Linked DNA regions of Homo sapiens: region 1 is linked to region 2. Evidence: fine-mapped expression QTL. Tissue or cell type: substantia nigra. Region 2 holds a variant in brackets; the other region holds the start of a gene. All regions are shown on one strand. Distances are from middle to middle.

Region 1 (2,741 bases), 320 kb after region 2:
GGGGCTGGTGCCGAGTTATCACAGGATCAGAAACTCTGCTTTTGAAACCAGACTGGTTTTTACACTTCTGGCGTTTCTTTGTTTATTTCCTTTTTGTTCTCCTTTAACATTTAGTAGAATTCAAAAATATTTTTTTTGTGGTTAATACATGTAGACAAGGTACAATTATTACTTTTTAAAATGCCACCCTGTCTCAGCTGAGCACTGAGGTGAGGGCAGAGTTTTAAAGGGGCAGGATGGCCAGGTGCAGTGACTTACTCCTGCAATCCCAGCACTTTGGGAGGCCACGGAGAGAGGATCACTCGAGTCCCGGAGTTCGAGACCAGTCTGGGCAACATAGTGAGACCCTGTCTCTATTTTTCAAAAATTAAAACTAAAAATAAATAAAGCGGCAGGAGCCCTGCCCCCCACCCCCAGAGCTGGATGGTAGCAGCAGGAGAAGGGGGCTGGACAGGAAGTCTCCAGAGCCACCTCCCTCTTCCTGGAGGTGACTCTTCCCAAGCTTCTCTCTGCCCACCCTGGTTGGGTTCCTGGTTCTGCTCAATAAGGAGGTCAAATCCTCAGAGATCAACATCCTCCCTGTCTGAGACTGTCATCCTCAACTTTTACTTATAAATGACAAATCCCAGTGGTTTTGGAAATCCCAAAATTCCCTTCTTTTTCCCAGCCACAGATATGACCTCATGAGAAAAGCTGAGGTCTTAGAGTCAAATCTGAGACCCAGAATAGTTTGCAAGCTGTGTGACCTAGGGCTAGTGGCTGAACCTCTCTGGGCTTCCTGCTCCTTGATACTTACAAGGAAATGACACCACCCTTTCCCTCCCAGGTAATTTGGAAGGATTTCAATGCAGGAAAAGTGCCTGCCTTATAAAAGACTTAAAAAAAAAAAAAAAAGTGTGCTTTGACTTCTTCCCTGTGCCTGCATGGGATGGGAAGGAGAACTTCTCCCAGAGGACTGGCATGGTTTGGGAGCATTTCTGTTTCCTATTGGCCCCAGCGGATGGGAGTCAAAGGCTGTGAGACACAGAACCGTGGCCTGGGAGCAGGAATCAGGAAGCCGTTAACGAGGAATCATAACCACAGCCAGGATCACGAACTAGCTCTGGGGGTGGGTGCCAGGCAGGGACCAAGTGTGGGAACCAAGTCATAGGGAGGACTTTTGGGGTCCTTGCTGCTTCCACTGGGACCTCTTTGGGGAGGGAGCGGCAGGGCAACTTTTCTCGGTCCAGGCAGGCCGTGCAGAGCTGAGTTTGTGTGTGCCCGGGTAGGGGCGGGCACAAACCGGGAGCAGTGGAGCGCAGCCCTCAGCCAGAGGCAGGAGGAAATGTGGAGGGGAGAGCCTGGAGAGGCTGTCCCAGTCAGAGGGAGAGAGCAGGGCCCGAGATGCTTCCAGGAAGCAAGGAGGGAGGAGAGGAATTCCAGGCTCTGACCCCAGCCCCCAAGCTTGAGGAGCCTCTGGTCACTCACCCTGTGTCCTGTGGCCTCCCCAGGCGACTCACGGACCCTGAGCCACTGCATGGCCTCTGGCTCCTTGGCCCATGTCTGCAATACTAACTTGTTGCTGGCCCAGACCCCCAGGCCCAGCAGAGGAGGGAGAGAGGAGGGGATGGAGGGAGAGAGGGCGGAGGGAGGGCGGAGGGAGAGGGCAGAGCCGCTTCCCACTTCCCCTCCTCCCTGCTCCCTCCCTTTCAGCCTCTGGGTTCTGCGGAGATAAAGGGAGGCAGGGATTTCCTTTGCTTAACTCTTTGGTGATCCAGTGGGGTCTTGCTTGATTCAAAGGCCTAGAAAGTCAGAGCAGGCAGGAGTCTGAGGCCCCCTGATGATTGGGAAATGGACACAGGCATGGGGCACAGGAGCCCCTAGGTTGCTCAGGAAGGGGGAGGCAGCCCTGAGTCCACCCTGAGCTAAAGTGCTTAACTGCTCTGAGTCACAGAGGCAGGGTGGGTAGCAGAGAAGGTGCAGGTGTTGGCCCTCCAGGCACAGGCTAGAATCCTGGCCCTGCTACCACAGTCGCGTCGCCTCTCAGAGCCTAGGTGTTCCAGAACTGCAGTCCTCAGCCCCCTTTGTGCCAGGCACATGGGAGGGCTTAACCCATGTTTGTTGGGTGAATGACCAGGCTGACCTCCTCAGGTATCATGCAAGTGTTACCAGAGAGGGGTACTGATCAGACCCCAAGAGAGAATTCTTGGATCTTGCACCAGAAAGAATTTGGGGTAAGTCCACAGAGCAAAGTGAAAGCAAGTTTATTAGAGAAGCAAAGAAACAAAAGAATGGCTACTCCATAGGCAGAGCACCCCCAAGCACTGCTAGTTGGCTATTTTTATAGTTATTTCTTGATCCTATGCTAAACAGGGGTGGATTATTCATGAGTTTTCCAGGAAAGGGGTGGGAATTTCCTGAAACTGAGGCTTCCTCCCCCTTTTAGACAATATAGGGTAATTTCCGGACATTGCCATGGTATTTGTAGGCTGTCTTGGTGCTGGTAGAAGTGTGTTTTAGCAAGCTAACACATTTTAATTAACATACAATGAGCAATAAGGATGACCAGATGTCACTTTCATTGCAATCTTAGATTTGGCAGGTTTTGGCTGGTTTGTTTACCGCATACTGTTTCTCAGCAGGGTCTTGATGACCTGTATCTTGTGATACCAGTCCTGCCAACTTCCTATCCCTTCCTGTGACTACAAATGCCTGACCTCCTGGGAATGCAGCCTGGCAGGTCTTAGCCTCATTTTACCCAG
Region 2 (2,500 bases):
TTAGAGACAGGGACAATTGTCTCCCTTCCCCAAGCCTCAGGGACCCTTCCCCAAGCTCCAACCCCATCTCCAGTTTGTTTTTTCTGTCTCTGTTTCTGTCTCTCTCTGTCTCAGCATATGACCCCGCTCCTTCTCATCCAGCCCCACCAAGGAACTTGAAGCTCCCCCTAGGAGTCTTGCCTACTCTAAGCCAGCCTCCCCTCTCAGGCTCCATCATTTTCCCTCCTCTCTCTTTTGGGGCTCTCTCCTGACAATCTACCCCTCCTTTTCCTTGTATATTCATCTTCCTCTTGATATACCAACTCCCTCTGCTAAGCGTCTCCACAGCCTCAACCCTCTTCTGTCTTTAAACAATCCTGAGCCATGAAACAGCATTCTTACAAGCCTCCCTGAGCCTCCGTGCCCCCAGGGCCCCCAAAGTTCTCTTTCTTCTTCCTTTGGCATCAAATTCACGCACTGTCTCACCTTGGCATGGCCATCCTCTCCTTAACTCCTCAGCTTGGTTTAGCTCTGACTACTCCACTGAAATTCCTCTCGGTGAGGTGGGCCATGACCCATCAATTCTGGCTTCCATGGCCAGTGCCAAGCCTCATCTTCACACCCCCACTCCTTCCTCTGTTAAGCTTTCTCCAACCTCCTGAGGCACCAGTGTCTCCCAATCCCCTTCCTAGCTTACTAGAGACTCCTTCAGCTTCTCTGTTACAGAATCAACCTTCTCTGCTGCTCCTTGGAAGGTGGGGATCCTCTGAGCAGACATCCTCTCTCCCCTGCCTTGTCTTCTCATTCCAAACACTCACCCTGGCAAACTGACCCATGTCTGGGACTTAATTGTCACGTTTTTGCTCCTAACTCCCAATGTCTAGCTCTAGCCCAGACCCTCCTACCGCCGCCGCCATCACCTCTGTCCATCTCCTGGACACCAGGAGCCAGGCAGGTTTCAGACTTGCTTCCTCGTAGGGGTTCTCTTGGTGAATGGTTCCACCAGTGCGCCCACATGAAGGCACCTGGAGGGGACATTTGTCTCTTGGTAGCCCGTCATATTTCCTTTTCCTCCAGAACATCTGCCTTGAGCTTGAGGAATTGTTCATTCATCCACTTAACAAATGCTCATTCATCTGGGCATGATTCTAGACCCATGGTTCTTAACTTTGGTGGTATGTGGA[C/T]GTGCCTTGAGAGATGGAAAGAATCCTGGTTCCTGAGTCCTGCCCCCGGAGATTCTGATTTAATTGCTCTGGGGCAAGTGCTACACAGTGAGATATTTACAAGCTCCTTGGGTAGCTTGAATGTGCAGCCGGTGTTGCCACTGTCCTGGGTGATGGGGGTACAGCTGTGAGCCAAGCAGGTGAAAATCCTGCTCTCTTAGAACTAAGAGTCGTGTGTGTGTGTGTGTGTGTGTGTGTGTGTGTGCGCTTGGATGAACAGGCAGTAAATAAAAAAGTAAGACAAGAAAAATATCAGCTGGTGATAGCACAACTGAGAGGATGAAAGTTGGATGGTGCCAGAGTGGCCACTTCAGTGCTGTGAAAAGATAACAGGGAAGAATGCTGAGCCATCGGGAAGGGGCTCTGGCCAGGGTTCCTGGCCTGTAGGGGCAGCCCTGAGCCCCGGGGCCATGTTGGGCCAGGCTCCTAGGACAGCTCTTTGTCTCTTCTCAGCCAAAGTCTACGTGGGTGTGAAACAGGAGATCGCCGAGATGCGGATACCTGCCCTCAACGCCTACATGAAGGTACCAGTGGGCCTTGCCACCTTGGCACGTGGAAGGGCATGCAGTATTGGTGGGGGAGCCCACGTACCATCCCTGGGTATGGCTTTGGGAACTGGGGCTGGCTCTCTGGCTCTGATGGCCCCATCTTCAATCCCTAAAGGCCTGGTCTGGGGAGTAAAACAGGATGCGTCCTTAGGGTTCCAGAGATAGGAGCAGGAGCAACGGAGAAGGTAAAAGAGCCACACTAGGAATTGACAAGTCTTCATTTAATGCTCCAAGCCCCACAGGTGAATGTCTATGCCAGGAGTTAAAATACAAAGGTGAATTCCATCCAGTGTCTGCCCCCAAGGTACCCACTGTCCTATGGGAATGCCAACAGGTGGATCATAAGATCACACGGAGACATATGTGTGCCTCCATCATGGGGGTGTGGCCAAGCAGGCCGCAGGTTGCTCATATAGCATCTTTGTGCAAACTAGAGTAGGCCTCCTCTGGGACAACTCACTCCCTTACGTGAACATGGGCTGGATTTTAGCTACACTCATGGGTCTTGGCTGGGGGCCCTTGTGTATTCTCCGACTTGCAAACTCTGCATCTCTATGAGATGGGAGCGTAGAGGAAGGAGCATCTTAAAGGCAGAGGCCAAGGTGGTCAGGAAAGGACTTCCACCAGCCACAGCCATCCAGGAAAGGGGCAGTGTTCCTCATGAGGTGGCAGTGAGTGCACCGTCGCTAGAGACCTGATAGTGACCTCAGGAAGCTGGCAAGCGAAGCCCTCCTCCCAGCCCAGCGGCAT

Evidence for each region. PIP is the estimated chance that this variant, and not a neighbour inherited with it, causes the effect.
Region 1: C1QTNF6 starts here. The variant in region 2 is fine-mapped to the expression of C1QTNF6 in substantia nigra (GTEx, PIP above 0.99).

What each region holds. Positions count from the first base shown.
Region 1 is chr22:37,186,696-37,189,436 of GRCh38, forward strand. C1QTNF6 (C1q and TNF related 6) reads right to left here and starts at 1,552. Exons shown (of 3, transcript NM_031910.4): 1 at 1,468-1,552. The coding sequence starts at 1,518. It overlaps IL2RB-AS1 (IL2RB and C1QTNF6 antisense RNA 1), which reads left to right. Exons shown (of 2, transcript NR_199008.1): 2 at 1-127. RefSeq lists enhancers at 656-1,291, 1,292-1,925, 1,926-2,561, 2,562-2,741.
Region 2 is chr22:36,865,737-36,868,236 of GRCh38, forward strand. NCF4 (neutrophil cytosolic factor 4) reads left to right here. Exons shown (of 10, transcript NM_000631.5): 4 at 1,656-1,726. All of the region lies in intron 1 of NCF4-AS1 (NCF4 antisense RNA 1), which reads right to left. Among named protein-coding and RNA genes, the nearest start is that of NCF4-AS1, 3.5 kb to the right of the region's middle. The variant C/T (reference allele first, on the strand shown) is at 1,164.